4 linked regions of the Homo sapiens genome follow. The protein of the gene in region 1 interacts with the protein of each later gene in a pairwise test. Each region holds a gene or a part of one and is shown on either strand. Other genes may lie near its edges. The genes, in order: ZNF426, LONRF1, USP25 and KRT3.

What was found.
Region 2: the proteins of ZNF426 (region 1) and LONRF1 interact in binary tests that used the Homo sapiens proteins (3 or more experiments, as listed by UniProt).
Region 3: the proteins of ZNF426 (region 1) and USP25 interact in binary tests that used the Homo sapiens proteins (3 or more experiments, as listed by UniProt).
Region 4: the proteins of ZNF426 (region 1) and KRT3 interact in binary tests that used the Homo sapiens proteins (3 or more experiments, as listed by UniProt).

Annotation. Positions count from the first base shown.
Region 1 is NC_000019.10:9,527,930-9,535,767, reverse strand, and holds part of ZNF426 (zinc finger protein 426), read left to right. Parts: intron 1-488; coding exon 489-580; intron 581-1,801; coding exon 1,802-1,928; intron 1,929-2,842; coding exon 2,843-2,923; intron 2,924-4,700; coding exon 4,701-4,783; intron 4,784-6,131; coding exon 6,132-7,388; 3' UTR 7,389-7,838. UniProt on the Homo sapiens protein: May be involved in transcriptional regulation.
Region 2 is NC_000008.11:12,720,738-12,724,696, reverse strand, and holds the end of LONRF1 (LON peptidase N-terminal domain and RING finger protein 1), read left to right. Parts: intron 1-1,442; coding exon 1,443-1,601; 3' UTR 1,602-2,791; downstream 2,792-3,959.
Region 3 is NC_000021.9:15,823,730-15,831,567, forward strand, and holds part of USP25 (ubiquitin carboxyl-terminal hydrolase 25), read left to right. Parts: intron 1-309; coding exon 310-437; intron 438-1,236; coding exon 1,237-1,332; intron 1,333-2,474; coding exon 2,475-2,636; intron 2,637-3,247; coding exon 3,248-3,474; intron 3,475-4,611; coding exon of another isoform or gene 4,612-4,622; exon of another isoform or gene 4,623-4,956; intron 4,957-6,801; coding exon 6,802-6,872; intron 6,873-7,671; coding exon 7,672-7,838. UniProt on the Homo sapiens protein: Deubiquitinating enzyme that hydrolyzes ubiquitin moieties conjugated to substrates and thus, functions in various biological processes including inflammation and immune response.
Region 4 is NC_000012.12:52,788,832-52,793,602, reverse strand, and holds the end of KRT3 (keratin, type II cytoskeletal 3), read left to right. Parts: intron 1-379; coding exon 380-440; intron 441-796; coding exon 797-892; intron 893-1,199; coding exon 1,200-1,364; intron 1,365-1,786; coding exon 1,787-1,912; intron 1,913-2,176; coding exon 2,177-2,397; intron 2,398-2,730; coding exon 2,731-2,765; intron 2,766-3,244; coding exon 3,245-3,561; 3' UTR 3,562-3,918; downstream 3,919-4,771.

The sequences.
Region 1 (7,838 bases):
CAAACTGTTGGGCTCAAGCAATCCTCCCACCTCTGCCTCCCAAGTACCTGGGACTGCAGGCACATGCCACCATGCCTGGCTGATTAAAAAAATTTTTTTGTAGAGATGGGGAGTTTATGTTCACTGTGTTGTCCAGGGTAGTCTCGAACTCCTAGGCTTAAGCAATCTTCTTGCCTCAGCTTCCCCAAGGAGATGGGACTACAGGTGTGTGTTACCACACCAGGCTCATTTTAAAATTTTTTTGTAGAGACGGGGTCTCACCGTGTTGCCCAGGCTGATCTCAAACTTCTCGCCTAAAGTAATCCTTCCACCTCAACCTCCCAGAGCACTAGGATTACAGATGTGAGCCACTGCAACTGGCCTTATGTGTGTTTTCCTGATTTTGCAGGAATATATGGGAATTTCATACTAGGAGGTAATGACCTCTAGGTAGGTGGATGTGGGGATTATGGTCAGCTCGGGGTTCTCTTGCCTTCATTTTCTTACAGGACATTATCTTTCTGGGGACCCAGTTTGCCTTCATGAAGAAAAGACACCAGCAGGAAGAATAGTGGCTGACTGCCTAACAGATTGTTATCAGGTAAAAAGCAGCTGTATTCTTATACATAGTGACATACTTGCATCCACCAGGTAGACACATTTCCCTCTAGGCAGAGTTGTCTCCAGACTTCTTTTTTTTTTTTTTTTTTTGAGAGGGAGTCTCGCTGTGTTGCCAGGCTGGAGTGCAGTGCTATGCTCTCGGCTCACTGCAAGCTCCGGTCTCCAGGCTTCTTAAAGCAAATAAAGTGTCACTCAAGGACTGAATCCCCATTTGAATTTCCCCAAGGGTTGGGGCCACCCATATAGGGAGGTGCTAACTTGGAAATCATCCCAGGCCGGGCATGGTGGCTTACACCCATAATCCCAGCACTTTAGGAGGCTGAGGCAGGCAGATTGCTTGAGTACAGGAGTTCAAGATCAGCCTGAGCAACATAGTGAGACCCCGTCTCTACAAAAAATTTAAAAATTAGCTGGGCAAAGTGGTACATGACTGGACTCCCAGCTACTTTGGAGGCTGAAGTGGGAGGATCACTTCAGCCCTGGAGGTTGAGGCTGCAGTGAGCTGTGATTGCACCACTGCACTCTAGCCTGGGCAACACAGCAAGACTCCGTCTCAAAAAAATTAAAAAAAAAAGTGTCCTTTAAGTTGTTTATCAGCATTGATCAGATGTCTGGAATGTGCTGAGCAATGCGCTCAAATAGATGGAAATAAGATGAGATCTTGGGCGGGCACAGTGGCTCATGCCTGTAATCCCAGCACTTTGGGAGGCTGAAGGGGGCGGATCATGAGGTCAGGAGTTCGAGACCAACCTAGCCAGTATGCTGAAACCCTATCTCTACTAAAAATACAAAAAATTAGCCGGGCATGGTGGCGTGTGCCTGTAATTTCAGCTACTCAGGAGGCTGAAGCAGGAGAGTTGCTTGAACCTGGGAGGTGGAGGTTGCAGTGAGCCAAGATTGCACCAGTGCACTCCAGCCTGGGCAACAGAGTAAGAGTCCATTTCAAAAAAAAAAGAGATCTCCTAGTCTGGTTGTGCTGAGATAAATTCATATTCAAGAAGTGCCATTAATGCACTATGAGTGGAGGAGATGACAGTGAGTATGTTTAGGGTGCGAGGAGTTTCTAGGACCCTTAAAACCTGGGGCTGGTCACTGCAGCCCTTGGAATCCTGCATAGGCATTGGGTCCCCCTTCCTCATCCTCCAGCGAACGCTGATGGGCTTGTTACTTGGCTCCAACCAGCATGTGTGTGATGCTTTAGGATTCAGTGACCTTTGACGATGTGGCTGTGGACTTCACCCAGGAGGAGTGGACTTTACTGGACTCAACTCAGAGAAGCCTCTACAGTGACGTGATGCTGGAGAACTACAAGAACCTGGCCACAGTAGGTAAGACTGGCCTCATCCCTTGCAGCCTTCTATGGAACTGATATGTTTTGTACTTACTGTTTTGCAGCATTGGCAATGTCAACTCTGAATGCAAAGAGAAATAACAGAGACATAGTCCCTGTCCTAAATAGATTTTAATCTACTGTGACCATTCTGAAAATGTGGTCCAAGATTAATAGCAACACCATCTGCCTGTTAGAAATGTACATTTTCCTTCTCCACCCAGAAACCTGGAGTTGAAGCCCAATAATCTGTGTTTGAACAAGTTCTCTGGATGACTCTGATGCACAATAATGTTTTAAAAAACACTGGGGTAGTTGTTTCCCCAGAAGAATGAAGATCTCTGTTATACTTCCTTATTCCTTATTTGTTGTTGTTCTTGTTTTGAGACAGTTTCACTCTGTCACGCAGGCTGGAGTGCACTGGCATGATCTCAGCTCACTGCAATCTCTGCCTCCTGGGTTCAAGCGATTCTTGGGCCTCAGCCTCCCGAATAGCTGGGATTACTGGCATGCGCCACCACACCCAGCTATTTTTTTTTTTTTTTTGTATTTTTAGAAGAGATGGGGTTTCACCATGTTGGCCAGGCTGGTCTCGAACTCCTGACCTCAAGTGATCCACCTGCCTCAGCCTCCCAAAGTGCTGGGATTACAGGCATGAGCCACCACACTCGGCCATTATTTTGTGTTTGAATAAAAGTCTCAGTGCTTTTTAAATGTGTACATAAGCCTGAATTTCGGTTTAGGGGACAGAAGTAACCAGACTGTTTGGGGCACAGTCAGAGTTGTTATTTGCATTTTTCGCCCTTTTGAAATAGCTTCACCACTTTCATTAGATCTGTAGTTCCTGAATCACAGAAAGGTTTGTAATCTTTTTTATGAGCCTCTTCCATTAATGTATTTCTCTGTGCTCAGGAGGTCAGATCATCAAACCCAGTCTAATCTCTTGGTTGGAACAAGAAGAGTCAAGGACAGTTCAGGGAGGAGTTCTCCAAGGTGAGTGTTCATGAAGAACAACTCTGGTTGATGAGAAGTTCAGTATGTTTGAAAGCATAATTAGGAAACTTTTTAACATGTACTTTCTCCCTGCACTCTAAACCCCAAGGTTTAGAGAAAGTTAGGAAATATTTAACTTCCCACACGCTTTTATTTACAGAGCAGTCCCCCCTTGTCTGTGATTTCACTTTTCACGGTTTCAGTTATCTGCATTCAACCATGGTCCAAAAATATTAAATGGGAAACTCGGCCAGGCATGGTGGCCCACACCTGTAATCCCCACACATTGGGAGGCCTAGGTGGGTGAATCATTGAGCCCAGGAGTTCAAGACCAGCCTGGGCAACATACCGAGAACCTTGTTTCTACAAAAAATACAAAAATTAGCCGAGGGTGGTGGGACGCACCTGCTGTCCCAGTAACTCAGGAGACTGAGCTGTGAGGATGGATTGAGACTAGGAGGTCAAGGCTGTGGTGAGATGTGATTGCACCACTGTACTCCAGCCTGGGTGATAGAGTGAGACCCTGGCCACTGACCCCCACCCCACAAAAAAAAAAAAAAAAAAAAGAAAAAAAGAAAAATTTCCAGAAATAAACAAAACATAAGTTTTAAATTTCTCACCATTCTCAGTAGTATGATGAACCCTTATGTCATCCTGCCTGGGGTGTGAATCATCCTTTTGTCCAATGTATCTACACTGTGTACACCACCTGTGAGTCACGTAGCGGTCATCTCAGTTACCAGATCGAAGAATCATAGTATGTACAGGGTTCAGAACTAGCCATGATTCAGGCATCCACCTGGGGTCTTAGAACATTTCTTTAAGTTAATTGTGGCTTTTGTTTGTTTGTTTTGTTTTTTGAGATGGAGTCTTGCTCTGTCGCCCAGGCTGGAGTGCAATGGTGCAATCTCAGCTCACTGCAAGCTCCACCTCCCGGGTTTATGCCGTTCTCCTGCCTCAGCCTCCCAAGTAGCTGGGACTACAGGTGCCTGCCACCATGCCTGGCTAATTTTTTTATATCTTTAGTAGAGACGGGGTTTCACCGTGTTAGCCAGGATAATCTCAATATCCTGACCTCGTGATCTGCCTGCCTCGGCCTCCCAAAGTGCTGGGATTAAAGGCATGAGCCACCGTGCCCGGCCAAGTTAATTGTTTAGATATACGCTCTTTTTTCAGAAATTTCCTACTTTCATTCCCTGATTCTCTCTATTCACTATCAGTTTTAATTTTCATAGCATCAATTTGTAATAAACGATCGAAAAGTTTTACCCCATGTCCTTGTCTTGGCCAATTTTTCCCCCTTTGGATCATTTACATCAAAACCAAATTTTTGATATAGCCCAAATCCCCAAATGTCTTTCTGCTTTTTCTTGCCATGTTTAATTTGAAACAAATAGAAATAAGCCATATTGTTTTGAACTCTTTGCATTTCTTTCTCCAAATCCTTTCATTTGTTCTTGTTGTGGTTCACTCTGTTTGTTGCCAAGGCTGGAGTGCAGTGGTGTGATCTGAGCTCCTTACAACCTCTGCCTCCTGGATTCAAGAGATTCTCCAGCCTGAGCCCCGTGAGTAGCTGGGATTGCAGGTGCTCACCACCACACCCAGCTAGCTTTTGAATTTTTAGTAGAGGTGGGGTTTTGCCATGTTGGCCAGGCTGGTCTCAAACTCCTGACCTCAAGTGATCCACCTGCCTTAGCCTCCCAAAGTGCTGGGATTACAGGCATGAGCCACTGTGCCTAGCTTGAGTCCTTTTATTTGTTTGTCTGTTTTATTTCAGGATGGGAAATGCGACTTGAAACCCAGTGGTCTATACTTCAGCAGGACTTTTTGAGGGGTCAGACATCCATTGGGATACAATTGGTAAGATTTGCATAGGATATTTTTTATTTTCCACCCTCAGAGAAAATCAGGAATTCTGTTATGGGAAGTCAGCAAAAATAAGAGATATTTGAGAGAAGTTGCATACACATGAGAGGGAGCAAAGAATTTAGGGATGCTCCAATTGTGAAACTTGTTTCTTTGGAGCTTTCACACATTCCCACAAGTGTAACTAGACGTTGAGTTTTGTTTTGGTGTTTTTTTGAAACGAGATACTGCTCTGTCACCCAGGCTGGAGTGCAGTGGTGCAATCATGGCTCAGTATAGTCTTGACCTCCTGGGCTCAGGCGATCCTCCCACCTCAGCCTCCCTTGGTAGCTGGGACTACAGGCATGCACCACCACACCCAGCTAATTCTTCAAAATTTTGTGGAGACAGGGTCTTACTGTGTTTCCCAGGCTAGTCTCAAACTCCTGTGCTCAAGTGATCCTCTGCCTCAGTTTACAAAAGTGCTGGGAGTACAGGCATGAGCCACCACATCTGGCTTAGACTATGAATTTTTTTTTTTTGGTCGAGACAAGGTCTTGCTGTGTCACCCAGGCTGGATTGCAGTGGCACAAACATGGCTCACTGAAGCCTTGACCCCTTGGCTCAAGTGATCCTCCCACCTCAGCCTCCTATGTGGTTGGGACTACAGGAACACACCACCATGCCCAGCTAATTTTTTGATATTTTTTATAGAGATGGAGTTTTGCCATGTTGCCCAGGCTGGTCTCTAATTCCTGGGTTCAAATGATCCACCCACCTTTGCCTCCCAAAATGCTGGGATTACAAATGTGAGCTACTGCACCCATCTAGACATTGAATTCTACAGAAATCTGTTATTATTATTATTATTATTATTTTGAGACGGAGTCTCGCTTTGTTGCCCAGGCTAGAGTGCAGTGGTGTGATCTTGGGTCACTGCAACCTCCGCCTCCCAGGTTCAAGCGATTCTTGTGTCTCAGCCTCCCAAGTAGCTGGGATTACAGGCATGTGCCACCAAGCCCAGCTAATTTTTGTATTTTTAGTAGAGACAGGGTTTCACCATGTTGGCCATGCTGGTCTTGAACTCCTGACCTCAGGTGATCTGCCCCCCATCGGACTCCCAAAGTGCTGGGATTACAGGCATGAGACACCATGCCTAGCCAAGATTAAAGTAGATGGCACAACATTCTAGAATAAGAGTTAAGTCATACCACTTAAAATAAATCTACAGGGAAGGACCTGAATGCATGTAATAAAAATGGCATCAATTATAATCACCATTATAATGTTTCTAGCTTCAGATGGGTATGTTCTGTTAATATGTTTGAGAAAAATCCTTAAATCATCATCATCCCTTCAACAGGAAGGAAAACACAATGGAAGGGAACTCTGTGACTGTGAGCAATGTGGAGAAGTCTTCAGTGAACACTCATGCCTTAAGACGCACGTGAGAACTCAAAGTACAGGGAACACTCATGACTGTAATCAGTATGGAAAAGATTTCCTTACCCTGTGTGAGAAAACCTCTACTGGTGAGAAACTTTCTGAGTTTAATCAGAGTGAAAAAATCTTCAGCCTGACACCAAATATTGTATACCAGAGAACTAGCACACAAGAAAAGTCATTTGAATGTAGTCACTGTGGAAAATCCTTCATTAATGAGTCATACCTTCAGGCACATATGAGAACTCACAATGGAGAAAAACTCTACGAATGGAGGAATTATGGGCCAGGTTTTATTGACTCTACAAGCCTTTCTGTGCTTATAGAAACCCTCAATGCAAAAAAGCCCTACAAATGTAAGGAATGTGGAAAAGGCTATAGATACCCAGCCTACCTCAGTATTCACATGCGAACCCACACTGGGGAGAAACCATATGAATGTAAGGAATGTGGGAAAGCCTTCAATTATTCCAACTCATTTCAGATACATGGAAGAACTCACACTGGAGAGAAACCCTATGTATGTAAGGAATGTGGGAAAGCCTTCACTCAGTACTCGGGCCTTAGTATGCATGTACGATCTCACAGTGGAGACAAGCCCTATGAATGTAAGGAATGTGGGAAATCCTTCCTTACATCCTCACGCCTTATTCAACATATAAGAACTCACACTGGAGAGAAGCCTTTTGTATGTGTTGAATGTGGGAAAGCCTTTGCAGTTTCCTCAAATCTTAGTGGACATTTGAGAACTCACACTGAAGAGAAGGCCTGTGAGTGTAAGATATGTGGGAAAGTATTTGGGTATCCCTCATGTCTTAATAATCACATGCGAACGCACAGTGCCCAGAAACCATACACCTGTAAGGAATGTGGGAAGGCTTTTAACTATTCCACCCACCTTAAAATTCACATGCGAATCCACACTGGAGAAAAACCCTATGAGTGTAAACAATGTGGAAAGGCCTTCAGTCATTCCAGTTCATTTCAAATACATGAAAGGACTCACACTGGAGAGAAACCCTATGAATGCAAGGAGTGTGGGAAAGCCTTCACGTGTTCCAGTTCCTTTAGAATTCATGAAAAAACTCACACAGAAGAGAAACCCTATAAATGTCAGCAATGCGGGAAAGCTTACAGTCATCCCCGTTCACTTCGAAGACATGAACAAATTCACTAGTGAGAAACTGTCCATGTAATAAATGTGGGAAAGCTCTCATTTGTTCCAGTTCACTTTAAAGACATGAATGAACTCACTCTGGAGAGAAGAAGCTGCATGAAAATTACTTAATTCCTGTAATCCCAGCATTTTGAGAGGCTGAGGTGGGTGGATCACTTGAGGTCAGGAGTTTGAGACCACCCTGGCCAACATGGTGAAACCTTGTCTCTACTGAAAATACAAAAAATTTAGCCAGGTGTGGTGGGCACCTGTAATCCCAGCTACTTGGGAGGCTGAGGCAAGTGAATCACTTGAACCCAGGAAGCAGAGGTTGCAGTGAGCAGAGATCATGCCACTGCACTCCAGCCTGGGCGATGGAGTGAGACTCCATCTCAAAAAAAAAAAAAAAAGAAAATTATTTGATTAAATTGAGTCTGTTAGAGTACATCCCTAATCCAATATGATTGGTGT
Region 2 (3,959 bases), on another chromosome or scaffold:
AGCTTATAGAAAAATTCAGCATAACTTTTCCATCACCTTCACCACCCTTGCCTTTTATTATCCTGTCCTGTATCACTGCTTTCTGTTAGCAGTGTTGTGTGAGTTAGGATTTGGGCAGGAAAGCAAAAGCAACCACCCGTCATTTTCCCAGAATGAAGGGTTTGACGTAGGATGTAGACTTTGTATAGTAGTTGGGAGAGCTGTGGGAGTGAAGGTCAGGGATGTCACCTACAGAAGTCAGGGAATCTGCCACCAGAGATCCTGCATCAGAAACAGCCAACAGCGTGCTTCTGAAGAACTAGTGGGGAAGTGGCTATAATTCTTAGGAATCCCAGCAAGTCTGCACCACTGTCTCAGTCTACAGCAGTGGAGAAAGGGGTTTCCAGGAGCTCTCTGGAAAGTTCCTGCCCACACTTTGCAACAATCTTCAGAGGATAATGGCTTCTCTTCCAGCTTCCACACCCAACAAGAGTGCCTTTCATCGGCCAACTCTAACCTGGAACCCTATGGCAGAGGGGATTTTAGAAGACAGTTTGTAATGTCTGTGGAATGCAGATGAAGAGGTAGCAATGCTTAGTTGACAGCGGACAATACACAAATATAGAAACCGAATCTGATTCTAGAGGGGCCTACTGAGATCAGCACTGATGTCGTAGCTCCTTTTGTCATTCTGAAGCTTTATATTTTAAGTCCGATAAATAGCAATTTAAGGTTCAGTGAAGGTGGCTTACAAGTCCTTTTATGGAAATTTCTAGTTGTTTCAATAGCCAATAGTCAGCCCTCACAGCATTACCAGGACCTTTTCACTGGAGATATGTTTCTTTTTTGAACAACATTGGAAGCTGGGGCCTTTTTCTTCTGTCTTTCCAAGGGTTCCATAATACTTTGAGGAAATTTTAAATCTCAATTAACATTTCTTAATGCTTTAAATCTATAGCTCAAGAAAGTGGCTGTCAACTAGGGGCATGTTGCCCCCACAGGATATTTGGCATTACCTGGAGACATTTTTGGCTGTCACAGCTGGATGGGAAGGTGCTACTGGCATCTGGTGGATAGAGATCAGAGGTGCTGCTGAATGTGCTCTAGTGCATAGGACAGCCACATGCAACAAAGAATTATCTGGCTCAAAGTGTCAGTAGCCTGAGGTCGAGAAGCCTTGCTAGTGTAATAGGAGGAAAGAGCGTGTGTTGACTGTGGGGAGTCAGGTCTAGATTTGAATCTCGGCTCTGCCACATAAGAGCCAAGAGATCTTGGACAATTTGCATTACATTGCTGAGCTTCAGTTTCTCCCATTTTATACTTTGCATAATTGTTAAGGACATTGGAGATAGCACCTGGCACATAGTACAAGTGCTCAATAAATAGTAATTTTTTGGTGGTTTGCTACTGTTGTTACATAAATCCTTGTTTTATTAATGCTATAAACTGTCCATTGTTTTTAGGCAGCCCCTAATGGACCTGCATGGTGTTGGTGGCTTCTTGCAGTTCTCCCTGTAGACCCACGATACCAGCTGTCGGTTTTGTCAATGAAGTCTTTGAAAGAACGGTTGACCAAGATACAGCATATACTGACCTATTTTTCTAGAGACCAATCTAAGTAACTAACTCTTTGGATCTCCCTTTAAAGTGACCCTAATCTGGCTGCATTGATGGCCAGATTGTCTGCTGCCTTTGCACATCTAGTGCTGGTTTCAGAAATTTAATGAAACTTTTCTTTTTCCTTCGACCTCCTGAATCATGTGGTTCTGCAAATGAATACCTTCAACTAGGATTTAGACCACTAAGAACTTGCACAGAAAAACACGCATTGAATGTGTGTCGAACCTCTACATTGTGAAGTTGCACTATGTACCATACTCTAAAATGAAATAAGAACTCTTTATGTCTGTGAGAGAGTGTGTGTGTGTGTGTGCGTGCGTGTGTGCTTGTGGGGGTTGGGTAGTGTGTGTGTATTTTCTCTGGCTTTAAAATTTTAAAACAAACAAACAAAAAAGCCATAGAGAGCAGAACTTGCCGAGGGTCATTTATTGCCCAAGTTTACAAGAGTAGCGATACAAGTTTTTGCAAATTGAATTTGCCTCAGATATATCTGTCCTAATGCTTATATTTGCACAAGTATGTAAAATATCGTGTTGAGGATCATTCTTTGTTGGAAACACTGCTCTTGCTGAACTGTCTTGACCATTGACTATGACACAGTTTCTTATTTATGTAAATACTTGCATCACAGTGGCCGACAGGCATTGGATGCAGAACCTAGAGCCAGTTTTCAGGAACAATTGTAAACCTGACATGGTACTGTGCATCTATTCATAAAACACTCAAAACTGTGAAAATATGGTTTACATTTAATTGTACATAAAGGTAAAGGGAGAACTCAATTCAGTACCAGTTAGTTTGTACATTTTAGGGGGCTTTTCACATTAACTGCCCATTTGTGTAATTTATAGTTTGACATGATGTGTTTGTTTTAAAAAAAAATGCATAGTATAAACCCATTAAGGATCTGGGAAAAGAGAAGAAGTTTAATATAGAACTAAGCTTTTAAAGTTTGTTTTTGTTTTTAATTCTGGTCTCGGTGCAAATGTTAGTTATGCCTTATTCATATCACAGTTAGATCACCATGCTGCAACATGGTTTATATTCATGCTGCCCTAGAAACTTTTGTAATTATTTGTTGCAAATTTGTGACTGTCCTTATTAACTTTCTTTTATGTAAGTAATTTGTAAAAGTTTCTTAAAATTTTTGCTTTTGCTTATTTAATTTTGAATAAAAGCTAAATTCCTAATACTTTTTCTTAAATTGTAGGTCAGTGTTATAAAAACAAGTCAGTAGAAGAACCAAACTGCATATGTTAAAGAACAGATGAGTTTTGCTTATGGTTTGGTGGCATTAGATATATGCTATGGTTTCCAAAAACTTTGGCCATTTTTATTTTTTGAGAAAAAAAAAGCAATTTATTGAGGGTTTAGGCCTCGGAACCATCCCTAAAGCACTATTTTTCAACCTTTTAAAAATCCATGTCCCTTTAGGGTAAGGCTAAAATTCTTTCTTTGATGCCTCACCATTTGAGACTTCTCTTGGTTACACAGACTGGACTGTTTCTGCCCCCAGTTCCTCAGCTAGGATTTTGCAAATGTCAGTCAATCATCTTTTTTTTTTTAGAGACAGGATCTTGCTCTATGGCCAAGGCTGGAATGCAGTAGCACAATCATAACTTGCTGCAGCCTCAAACTCCTGGGCTCAAGTGATTTTCCTGTCACAGGATCCTTGGGGTGGCACTTTGCCAGCCAGAAATGTCTGTGGCCGGTGGTGCCTTCTGCCTGAGTAATGCTCATGCCCACTGGGCTTGTTCTGGCCACTCAGCCTGGCAGGCCGTGCTTGGCTTTTGCTACCAGCCCAGATCCCCCACCTGCCAAGAGCGAACCAGGCACGGAGCAGCGAGGGGTGTGTGGGCAAGTGCATGCAGGGTCCAGACACTGCACACAGCCAGGCACACCAGCTGCTGTGTTGGGGTGGGCACCTTCATGCGAGGTTGCAGCTGGACCAGATGCACCACGTGGCTTCCACTGCAGGCACCCACATCTGGACAAGGGGAACACTGTGGCACCCAGAAGCTTGGAGATGCCAGGAACCACAGAGCTCCAAAGAGGGTGTCACAGCCCTGGCTTAGGCACCCTTTAGGTCTGGACTCCCCAAATAGCTGTAGCTCTTCTTGTCACCCACAATGTGGTGAGTTGGGGTGCAAGGGGGGTATGTGTTTCAGCCCTGTTTGTGTTATAGTTCTTTCAGTTTCACCATTTAGCAAGTCCTGAGTTCTTTCCCTGCATCCAGGAAGAATGAGGTGGACAGACAACTGGAAGGTGAGCAAGGCAGAGAGGAGCTTCACTGAGTGATAGAACAGCTCTCAGGAGACCCAAAGTGGGTAGCTCCTTTCTGCAGGCAGGTCTTCCTGATT
Region 3 (7,838 bases), on another chromosome or scaffold:
TCATGGTTTTAACCAGTGTCTTTTTCTTTGGGCTAGAAATTCTAATGTAAAGAATTATTTTCGAAGGATAGTTGTGAGATTTCTTTTTTTCCTGATCATATATTATACCCACTCTTGGAATTTTCAAGAGGTGTGGAAAACTTTTAGAAAGAGGTTGAGTTTTAACTAAACTGTGTACCCAGTTACTTGTCAGGTCCGCATTGTGGTGATACATATAACAATGTCAGTGCCCACATCCTGTGCCTAAGATTGCAGTGAAGAAAACAAAGGTGGTATTAAAGTTTTTGTTATTGTTTTATTTCCTTTCAGCATTGGTTTACTGAATTACCACCTGTGTTAACATTTGAATTGTCAAGATTTGAATTTAATCAGGCATTGGGAAGACCAGAAAAAATTCACAACAAATTAGAATTTCCCCAAGTTTTATATTTGGACAGGTATGGTTTGATATACTGCATGACTTAGTTTGAAACAGTTTAGTAAGGGAGAAAATATTGTTTAGAGGAAAATTCTGCATAATTTTCTTAGAATTAATTTCTACTTTTGCATAATATACCTAATACCATTTGTCAAGGTAGATGAAATTTACTTTGTATTAGAAAAGTATAGTTTTTGGGAATAATGTTATAAGGAAATTTAAAAAAGATGAATTTTGTAATCTTAAAATTCAGAATTTTAAAAAATACCATTTTGTATTATCTACCTTACATCTTATACAATTTTGAATGAATTGATGCTTTGTGGTGATGTCTGTACTTAATATTGTATCTATCTATCTTTCTGTCTTTCTTTCTGTCTCTCTGTCTTCCTGTCTTTCTGTCTTCCTGTTTTCCTGTCTTTCTTTCTTTTGTTTTTTTCTGTCTGTCTTTCTGTCTATCTTTCTGTCTTTCCTTCTTTTTTGTTTTGAGACAGAGTCTTGCTCTGTCGCCCAGGCTGGAGTGCAGTGGTGCGATCTTGGCTCACTGCAAACACCATCTCCTGGGTTCAAATGATTCTCCTGTCTCAGCTTCCCGAGTAGCTGGGATTACAGACACCCACCATCGTGGCTGGCTAATTTTTGTATTTTAGTAGAGACGAGATTTCACCATGTTGGCCAGGCTGGTCTTGAACTCCTGACCTCAGGTGATCCTCCCGCCTTGGCGTCCCAGAGTGGTAGGCCGGGTACGCTGGCATCTGGCCATATTGCATCTACTTTCATGATATTCGGAAATGCTAATGATTACCTTTTTCTGATAGATACATGCACAGAAACAGAGAAATAACAAGAATTAAGAGGGAAGAGATCAAGAGACTGAAAGATTACCTCACGGTATTACAACAAAGGCTAGAAAGGTATTTTAACTTTTATGAAATTAGGAGATAATTATCAGAAACCATGTATTTGGTGACTAGATTTTTAATTTCAAATTTGCTTTGAGTGATTTATAATTTTAGGAGTAGTTAATATTGTGTGAATAGTTTTGAGTTTTGCTTGAAACTAAAAATCTATAGTAGACTTTAAAAAATTATTCTAGTGTTTAAAATTAAATATCTCATTGTCAACAGGTAATGTTCCTACTGCTGAAAATAGATACAAAGTTAAATGAATATAGTTTTGACCTTCCTTTTTGCATGAAACTAAAGATTACTCTTGAGATTTTCATTAAAATGAATGGTATCTGAGTTTTTCTCCTTAAAACAGGATACAAACTCAGCTGCCTACCAAGTCTTCTCAGCAGCTTCGTAAAGGAGGAAATTGTGTCAGGTGTAAGATGGTATGTGCCGGGAGCCTAGAGAGCAATCTGTGTGTACAGGGAATGAATGCCATTCCATACCAGTGGATGGTACCATGTATGAGTATGGCCTCACTGTTGTCTATTGATTTGGATCATTTCTAAAAGACGTCAGAATCTGGACTGAGAAATGTTCTACAGGCCAGACAGAAATCTAAAGGCTGAAATGTCACAAGTCATTTCAGTTTGCAAACCCCAATCTGCTCTGCATTCCCCTATTTTAGGAATTTTCAAATTAGTAGTCTAAAACTTCTTACATCAAATAGTATATTGTATTTTAATGATTTTTATTCTTAAAAAGTATGAATAATCATATTGAAACATGATTAGTGGTAAAAGATAGGAGGATAGTACACATCACTGTCTTGATCATGAGACCAGATGCCAGATCTAAAAATAAAAACAGTCTCAGGAGATGTCAGTTTTCATCTTCCTATTGAGTTACAATTTAGAACAGCATTTACAGATTATAACAGTATATACTCACATTCAGTCCCAATCGGCCTTGGTTTCCTGTCTTTGGGGAACTTTTAATGTTTTTCTTAAGTGTATATTCAGTTTTACCATCTTCGTTTTAAAGCAAATGAATTTTATTGCTGAGGAAGTTTTATTGAAGTATCGTATCACGTTTTATAATAATAATAAAGGCCCAAATATGCTGTATATAGAAATAAAAGCATTTGTACATTTTATGATTAACAGATATTTAAGCTATGGTTCCGGTCCCAAACGATTCCCCTTGGTAGATGTTCTTCAGTATGCATTGGAATTTGCCTCAAGTAAACCTGTTTGCACTTCTCCTGTTGACGATATTGACGCTAGTTCCCCACCTAGTGGTTCCATACCATCACAGACATTACCAAGGTAAAAAGTAATCCTGATGCAAGAGACAGTTGTTACCTTTATTACACAATAATGTAACTGCTGCCTTTAAAGACAGTTTCTATAAAATGTATGCTTTGATTTACTTCAGTGAACTCCTAAGAGTAGATTCACTTAGAAGACTGTATGTCCTCTGGGAGTTTTTTTATTATTTCAGTAGATTTTATGGTTATGGATTAAAATTTTAATCACATTTTTTTTCAGTTCAGAATTATACTTTAGCATGTTTTGGTATGTACATATATAAGATTCAGCATTTTATGATCCATAAAAATAGTACTATCAAATTAGAATTTGTTTCTGTAATGTAAGCTGATAAGCCAGGGAAAATAATATCACCATGCGTAAGATTTTCTTGTTTTTTAGAAATAAATATGATTAAGCTGTTTTAACTCTAAAGCTACAACTTCATCTTATAATAATTTAGTTCTTATGTATTAAAAATCTCATTTGGATGTTAGATCAATCCACATATTTCTTTAAGATTTTTTCTTTTGAATTACAAGCCAATTTAATACTGTGGGTTTGGCACGATCTTTGTCAAGAGTTTCAGCTTGAAAGGTTAATAAGAAATACTCTATGCTTTGATACAGCACAACAGAACAACAGGGAGCCCTATCTTCAGAACTGCCAAGCACATCACCTTCATCAGTTGCTGCCATTTCATCGAGATCAGTAATACACAAACCATTTACTCAGTCCCGGATACCTCCAGATTTGCCCATGCATCCGGCACCAAGGCACATAACGGAGGAAGAACTTTCTGTGCTGGAAAGTTGTTTACATCGCTGGAGGACAGAAATAGAAAATGACACCAGAGGTAAGAAGTGTCTCATAGCATGGTTACTGTCACCTCAGATGGATATGTGTAATGTTAATATTGAGAAGGGAAATCACGTCTGGATTTTATATTTAAATATTATAGTCATTTTTCTTTTCCAGAAAGGGTTTTAAGATAAACTAGTTTGGCTCCCCATTTTTATAATCTCAATATCAGGTTCACAGGGACCAAAAGATTTTCCCTGGATTGCTTAGCTGATTAATGACATAGCAGATGGCCTGATTTTCTAGTTTGCTGCTCTAAATTTATATCAAACTGGTATTCACAGTTACTCCATTGGAGAAATGTCATACAATATCAATGTTTGTACATATCAATTAGGTACTAAATCTAAGTTTGCACAGGGAGTTCCGGTGATTAAAAAATTTTCTTTGGGCTTAAGAATTAGAAATGTGAATTTTAATTTTTAATAGCTCTAACAGATTTATGAGTATCTATGATCCCATTACTAGTCTGTAACAGAGTTTTTACTGGCATGCAGCAAAATAAGAAAAATAAGGACAGTGCTCTGGGTGGGGTGTGTGCACTTGTGTGCGTGTGCGTGTGTGTGTGTGTGTGTGTGTGTGTGTGTGTGTGTGTGTCAAGTTGCCATCTGTCCTTTCTTGGAAGGAACTCTCTTTTATTCTTTTCTATTCTATTTTTTCTTTTTTTTCAGAATAAGTTATTCTGAACTTTTCTCTTTCCTACTTTGCTGCTGTTAAAGTGTACTTAAAAAAATGGATTATGGTAGATTTTATTACATTTTTTTCCTTAAATGTGAAAATATAATTCCCTATTATCATTCCCCAATTTTATGCTGATTTATTGATTTTTGAAAAAAATGAACTATGTGACATGGTTGGAATTATATTGAACAATATTGATTGTTGGATATTATATGACCAACTTAACTCTTTATAGACAATATTTGAAAAAGAATGGCCCTAATTTAGTAAGAAGTACATAAGGTATGATGGTGACTAACAGCATTAGTAGCTGTCAAGATTTTCTTTAGTATTTTTCAAATAAGAGGGAATTTTTAAAAATATTTGAACTCATTAACAAACATTAATCAAGCAAATAGTGTTGATGAAGCACTATATTAGGCGTTGGGTAATTTTCTACTCCTCATGGCAGGTTGTTTTTAAAAGATTACATTCAGAGGAGTGGAAGCTAGGAAGCTTTTGACACCTAAGTAGTGGCATTGAGGGAGGGAAGAAGTGAATGTACTTAAAATACTCTTTGGAGACAACTGACAGATGTGGGTCATTGGCTAGAGGTAAGAGAGAGGGACGAATCGAATGATTCTCTCAGTTCATAATGGTATGAATAACCAAATAGAATGTATTTTGGAAAAAAGGTAAAGCAGTGGGCAAAGAGGTTCCCACTCAGGGGAGGAAAGAGAAATATGATGAGTTCTCTTTTGGCCATTTTAAGTTTGAAGAGCTTTTTTGAGACGGAGTCTCGCTCTGTCACCAGGCTGGAGTGCAGTGGCATGAACTCGGGCTCACTCCAGCCTCTGCCTCCCAGGTTCAAGCGATTCTCCTGCCTCAGCCTCCCAAGTAGCTGGGATTACAGTTGTGTGCCACCACACCCAACTAATTTTTGTATTTTTAGTAGAGATGGGGTTTCACCATGTTGGCCAGGGTGGTCTCAATCTCTTGACCTTGTTATCCGCCCACCTCAGCCTCCCAAAGTGCTGGGATTACAGGCGTGAGCCACCATGCCTGGCTGTTAAGATTTTTATATGTAATACTATGGATCAGGAAAGAAGGTTTTCCTCAGGATATTTTTTTTCTTTCTTTCATCCATATTGATGTTAGCAGTTAGCATTATTTTGTAAACTATTGTGTAATATTCCAACACACGGGTATGATGTAATTCATTTAATTCCCATATTGATATTTCCTAAATAGTGCTGGTCTTCGATATACATATTTATACACTTCTGTAAGTAGGATATGTTCTTTTTTATGTTCAGGGGTACATGTGCAGGTTTGCTATAAAGGTAAATTACATGTCTTGGGGGTTTGGTGTAAGATTATTTCATCATGCAGGTAATAAGCACAGTACCTGATAGGTGGTTTTTCCATCCTCACCCTGCTCCCACCCTCCACCCTAATGTAGGCCCCAATATCTGTTGTTTCCTTATGTCCACCATTTCTGGTTCAGAGTGTGTATATTTTAAATTTTGACGACTGTTTTAAAATTGTCACTCCAAAACATTAAACCAGTTTGCATTCCCACTGTGTGAGAGAGCCTGTCTCCCAGTATCCTCCCTAGCCCTGGACACTTTTTAGTAGTTTTTCACAATTGAAAAACTGGTATTTTAGTGTTTTGATTTGCATTCCCTTAGCTTCGAGTGAAGTTGGATATTTATATTGTTCTGTAAATTTCTTGTTTGTGACATTTGCCCATTTTTTAAGTATTGAGCTATTTGTATTTTTCTTATTACTTAATAGAAAGTTTAATGTATTGTGGATATTAACACTTTACCTATAATATCACATATGCTGCAGATATTATTTTCCCAGTTTTTCATTTGATTTTATGTTGGTTTTGTTTTCTTTTTATAATGTAGATTTTTTAAAGTGTTGGGCAGGGAGGATCTTATCTTTTCCTATAAGGTTACTAGTTTTCTGACAGGCTTAAGACAGGTCTTTCCCCACTCTAAAGTTAGCCAGTTTCTTTTATAGTTTTTCAAGGTTTCTTCCTGATTGGTTCAGCAGCTTCACAATATGATGTGGTTACAATCTAACCGTTTCCTTATTGACAGATATTTAGGTTATCTCTTTTTTAAAAATTATTGTGGACAATATGACTGTGAACATCCCTATCTGAACAATTTTGTAGGATTATTTTCTACTAGAAGTAGAAATAATTGTCATGGGAGTGCCATAATTTTATTTTCACTGGTGATTATAGTCGATTTTTATTCAGTTATGTGTGTGTACAAGATATGTGGTGAACATGTTTTACTTTGTTCTTAAGTTTACTTGTGTTATAGCAATATGTAAGGAAGCTTAGCTTTCATTTTCATTGAAACTCTCCTTTATAGATTTGAACAAAATTCACTTTTATTGGCTCTGCACATTTTCTAGATAAATCATATTTGTGTTGTTTTTAAAGTATGCATTTGTACTGTGTCTTTTATTAAGAATAACTATAATTCATTTTCTACAGATTTCAAATGGTAATGTTTTTTAAGAAAAGTTTTAGGAAAATTTTCCTATTCCTCTAACATGTTTGTAGGAAAAACATTAGTCCTTATCTTATAAGTAGAAACACATTTGCTGTTAATCATTAAATGACACCTTATATCCTTAGATTTGCAGGAAAGCATATCCAGAATCCATCGAACAATTGAATTAATGTACTCTGACAAATCTATGATACAAGTAAGTGAAATTTTGAGCTAGTAATCATTGTCAAAATTATTTACATATATTTTAATTTACCTTTACATTATCTTAATCTAATTTTTCTTTACATGTTTTGTTTTAAAATTTTGGCAAATCTTATTGTAAAATAATAAGGGCTTGCAATATGTACAATGTGACAGTTCATCTGAATGGGGAAACTTTTATAACAAATTTATAACAAAATTCATGACAAGTTTTCCCCATTCAGTTGTATTTTCACACCGTATGTGTTGTGTACCCTTACTATTTTACAGTAAAATCTACCAAAGTTTTTCAAAAGGCTATAGCATCTTTAAAAAGTCTTATGGGAGAAAATCTATGGTTGTTAAAGGATATTAAGATTTGGGAAGAAACTTAAGGACTCCATTACATTTTAACTTCTGGTGTATATCATATAATCTATTTTGTTAACCGTCAATTTAGAATTCTGAAGATGTAGACACATTTGCTATATGTAAAACTGCCCACTATAAGCTTTTTATTCAAATAAACAATTAGGCCAATGAGTATGTACACAATAAATACATTTTTAGTTTTTCAAAAATCATCTTTTTAATCTATCAACTTTGCATATCTTTAGCTTATTCAGATTCCGTCTTTTTAAAGTTTTATAGTTTAGTTTTTTTCAAACTTTTAAGCCCAGCCAGTTCTCTCTCATTTAAAAAAAAAAATGCTCTTATGGTTTTCTCCAAACAGGTTGTTTGTGGGTTTCATGGAATGTGGTATATAGTAAACTACATAATTGCAGTTTAACTCTTCTTTTTTTCACATTTAGGTTCCTTATCGATTACATGCCGTTTTAGTTCACGAAGGCCAAGCTAATGCTGGGCACTACTGGGCATATATTTTTGATCATCGTGAAAGCAGATGGATGAAGTACAATGATATTGCTGTGACAAAATCATCATGGGAAGAGCTAGTGAGGGACTCTTTTGGTGGTTA
Region 4 (4,771 bases), on another chromosome or scaffold:
AACAAAAACAAAAAACGGATGAGTTTAGAGTTGGGGAAGCATTTCCTCATGAGCCAGGTTGGGGAAGATCCTGGTTCTGGCATGTGAAAGATTCTGGGACAACTCATGGTATGGTGATCAACCATCCAGAGGTTTGCCTGGGACTGAGGGGTTTCCTGGGATGCAGAAATTTTAGTGCTAAAACCAGACAGTTTGCCTGGGCAAATTGACTTGGTTGGTCCCCCAACTAACAGGGAGATAGTAAAGAGGATGTGCTCATCTGAGAGGGGCAGGATAGGGATGGAGGGAGGGAAGAGATGAACTTTCAGAGTTCCAGGGAACAATGGTGTTTACGATGACCTCAAAACCAAACTCAGCTGTTTCTTTTTTATTCACACAGATATGAGGATGAAATCAATAAACGTACAGCTGCTGAGAATGAATTTGTGACTCTGAAGAAGGTAAGGGCTGTGTGTGAGGTTTCTGAGGCTTGCAGCTGCAGGTTTCTGGCTGGGTTGGGGGAATCTCCTCACTCCACTGCCACAGAGCTGCCAAGTTCAGGCCTTTGGAGCAATAAACAGAAGTCAGGTGCACCTTAGTCTGGAAGATCCCTAAAAGAGTTAGTTCATCAGTCTTTAGTTTTTTAGTAGGATTAAACTTAGACCATCCTAATGAGATACAAATTGCCCGTTCAAGTGGAGACTGGTCTTAGACAAGGACCATCACTGCACCAGTCCCCTCTGCTCTTTCTTGCTGCAGTTGTGGTTTGCTGTTTGTTCATTGGGAGAATAAGGCCTTTATCTTCCTCTTTTCTCAGGATGTGGACAGTGCCTATATGAACAAGGTGGAGCTTCAGGCCAAAGTGGATGCCTTGATAGATGAGATCGACTTCTTAAGGACCCTCTACGACGCTGTAAGGATGTTACCTACTAAGAAGGGACAGAGGGAGAGTGAGGTGTTTCCAGATTTGAGGCTGGTGCATTTTGGTATATAGGCCCCAGAAGACATCTGGAATGAGCCTGGAGATGAGGACCCTTGGAAGGGATTCCACAGGATAAGCTGCAGACATGGGGTTCTCTGAGTGGCTGCGGACAGGGTGTGGCTGATACACATGTGGAGCAAGGAATCAGTGAATGAGACTGTTGATCAAGAGTCTTTCAGGGCCCTGTGTGCTTGTTACAGGGACCCCAAAAGTGAACAAGCTCCCTCTGTGTTGACAGGAGCTATCTCAGATGCAGAGCCACATCAGTGACACATCTGTGGTGCTGTCCATGGACAATAATCGCTCCCTGGACCTGGACAGCATCATTGCTGAAGTTCGTGCACAGTATGAGGATATCGCTCAGAGAAGCAAGGCCGAAGCTGAGGCCCTGTACCAGACCAAGGTGGGTGCTAGTCACCTCTTACGGGATCCACTGGAGGTTTCAGAGAGGCCATGGCCTATTGGACAGCTGGGTAGTGAGTTCCCAGTGGTCACTGGGTGAATGCCTTTTGGTTTTACCCTCTGAAGTCATCCTTCTAATGGTGGTTCAGTTGCAGAAAGTCTTGCCCCTGGGGGAGATGGTTGCCTGCTATGTGGGACTGACTCCAACTTGCTCAGGAACTACAGGGTAGGAAAATCTTCTACCACAACAACCCAGATGTTCTCTTTCCTGCTGCCTTGGGGGTTTCCCTGCTGAAACACAATGCAGTATCATTTTAGCAAATGCCTTACTGAGCTTCTGAAGGTTTGGTGGGTGATGTTGGAGGTGTAGAAACAAGTCAAGCAAAGCTGCAGGAATACCCCATCTTCCCTTCTGTTCTGCAGTTGGGGGAGCTGCAGACCACGGCTGGCAGGCATGGGGATGACCTAAGAAATACCAAGAGCGAGATCATAGAGCTCAACAGAATGATCCAGAGGCTGCGGGCAGAGATCGAGGGTGTCAAGAAGCAGGTGGGATGGTCATGGATGCTGGCACCTGGGATGATTGCTGAGGGGCAGGGGCTAGGATCTCAGGACTCCTCCCCTGGAATAGACGTCTGGAGGTCATCTCAGGCTGGCTGACCCACAGGGCAGTATCTCCACAAATGGAGACAAGATGGAGGCACTAGGGGAGGAGGAATGTTCCCTGACTTTAAGATGGGATAATCCATTGCATGTCAGGAAGGGCCTGGGGCCCTCTTACTGAGCTCATTCCTCCTACCTCCCTTGCCCCAGAATGCCAACCTGCAGACGGCCATTGCCGAGGCCGAGCAGCATGGAGAGATGGCCCTCAAGGATGCCAATGCCAAGCTCCAAGAGCTGCAGGCTGCTCTACAGCAGGCGAAGGATGACCTGGCGCGGCTGCTACGTGACTACCAGGAGCTGATGAATGTCAAGCTGGCCCTGGACGTGGAGATCGCCACCTACCGCAAGCTGCTGGAGGGCGAGGAGTACAGGTGAGCCTCCAGTCCCGTCTTCCCACACCCCCTGGCTCAAGTCATAGGCCAAGGGCCAGATAAGTGACCAAGTAACTGGGGATGGAGCCCTGCTGTATAAAGAGAGGCCTTGTGGTGAAGCATTTGCCTCTACCAGCCCACTCCCTCCCAGGGCACGTATGCAACCAGTGCCCACAGGCTCTCCTTGCTACAGCCCAAAGAGGGGTGGAGAAAGCTTACCTGATTTGCCAGGCTTCTCTGTTCAGCTCTGGTTGCTATTCATGCCCTTGGTCCGTGGACTTGTTGGTGATGTGCTTTGTGACGGGGCCCACTTTCTCTTGCTTTCTCAAACAGGATGTCTGGAGAGTGTCCGAGTGCTGTCAGCATCTGTAAGTACCGAAAGTAGCTAAGAAAATGAGAGTTAATTCTGAAATATCTGCACTAATCCAGGGTAGTAGCAACTAATTTAAACATATTTTTACGGAAGTTGGAGGGGTTTTCTGGGAGAGGAGAGGGAAGTGATTGGCTTTTGTAATTGTTCTGGGTTCAGGGCACTTTTAATAGGCTTCGACGGCCAATGTGGAATATCCAACAGGGGGCCTCTTGATAGGAGGATAAATTCAGACGCTAGATCCCCTCCAAGGGGGTCATCAAGACTGTACTGTGGGAGGAACCACTGGCTAATTCATAATGGCTTAACGGCAGGGGAGTGAGTAGCTAGTGGCCTTGGAACGGCTCGTGGTGAACATCCTGTGCAAAGCTGCCTTGATCAGCTCTGGATAGTCGTGGGCCCGGTGGATCATTGACAATAACATAGCAGCTGGCCTGGGCGCCGTCGCTGATCGCTGTCCTGTCCTCTCCCCCACAGCCGTGGTCAGCAGCAGCACGACTTCCGCCTCCGCAGGTGGCTATGGAGGAGGTTACGGCGGAGGCATGGGCGGTGGTTTAGGAGGTGGCTTCAGTGCGGGCGGCGGCTCAGGCAGTGGCTTTGGCCGGGGAGGCGGCGGTGGAATCGGCGGTGGATTTGGCGGCGGCAGCAGCGGTTTCAGCGGTGGCAGCGGCTTTGGCTCCATCTCTGGCGCCCGCTATGGAGTCAGTGGCGGGGGCTTCAGCTCGGCCAGCAACCGGGGCGGCAGCATCAAGTTCTCCCAGTCCTCCCAGTCCTCCCAGCGCTACTCCAGATAAAGAGCACGCATCAGCATCGCAGCCACTCCAGCGCCTCCCCTCCGCTCCCCACGCCCCCATATTGGCAACACCCCCAGCGCCACCCCATGCTCCCCAAGAACGCGGCTCTGCGCTGGAAGGCTTGTGGCCTCTTGCTCCTCCTTCCAGATCCCCGGCCAAGCCCAGTCACGAGAATTTCAGGCTCTTCTCTCCGGCTCCAGCCTGTGCCTGTGATTGTCCAGGTGTGGCCTAGGCCGCCACCTTCTGCTGCCCCGGAGTCCCCTCCCTGGGTGGGATGCTCACTACAGCTCTGATGTATATAGCACACAGCCCCCTCCGCCCCTCCGGTCTGTCGCCAATAAAGTGCACTGTGTTTCACTCCGGGCCTCTGAGTATTCGCTCCATGTCCTTCTCCTTAGGGCACTGAGCTCCCTGGTCACCTCCCTGGCCTCCCTGCCTCTGCCTCTCCCATGTGGGCTCTGTGATCCACAGAGCAGCTGGAGAACTCTTCCTCTGAAACAAAGGCAGTTCGTCTTCTCAGTCCATGGTGCGGATCCGGTTGTTCATTATTCTGTGAGCACCGTGGGGAGGGAGAGGTCCTGCTCCCCGACGCTGTTGTACCCTGTGTACCCTTACCGTCCTTAGTGGTGAAGGCTGGCCCATGCAGACATCTGTCTCCTCCCTGTCTTCTCTCATGTGGGGGAACTAAGAGGGCCTTGGGGACAGAGGGTTTCTTCCCTTGGTGTTGATTCTCACTCCAGCTGACATCGTGAAAGCTTTTCCCCCATCAAGGTGCTCCGGGAAAGTGCGGGCTGCTGGAAGCCCAGGGATGGAAATAGGCCCCAGAGCAGCCTATGTCAAAGTCTGACCCAGGAACACCATTCCATTGAGACACTCTGCAATAAAAGACTCCACGCCCATTACATCTTTTCTTTTTGGAGCACATATTAGAGTTTCTAAGAAGTTCAGTAGCAAGGAAAACCTGTTAGCTTCCTTGAATCCAACATTTCCTGCAGAGGCCCCCATTCCTGCACCTAGCACTGTGCATGCACTTGGGGCCTGAAAATAGGTGCACCAGCCATGAGAGTTCTTGTCATCCTGGCTTCTGCCCTGCACCAAGAAGCTCTGATAATGTGTTAGTTGGCCATGGGAGTGCTGTCCAGAAGGTGACTGCTGGAAAGGACTCAGAAGCAAGGAGTCCAAGGCCTTTGCTTCCAAATGAAAAGATTGA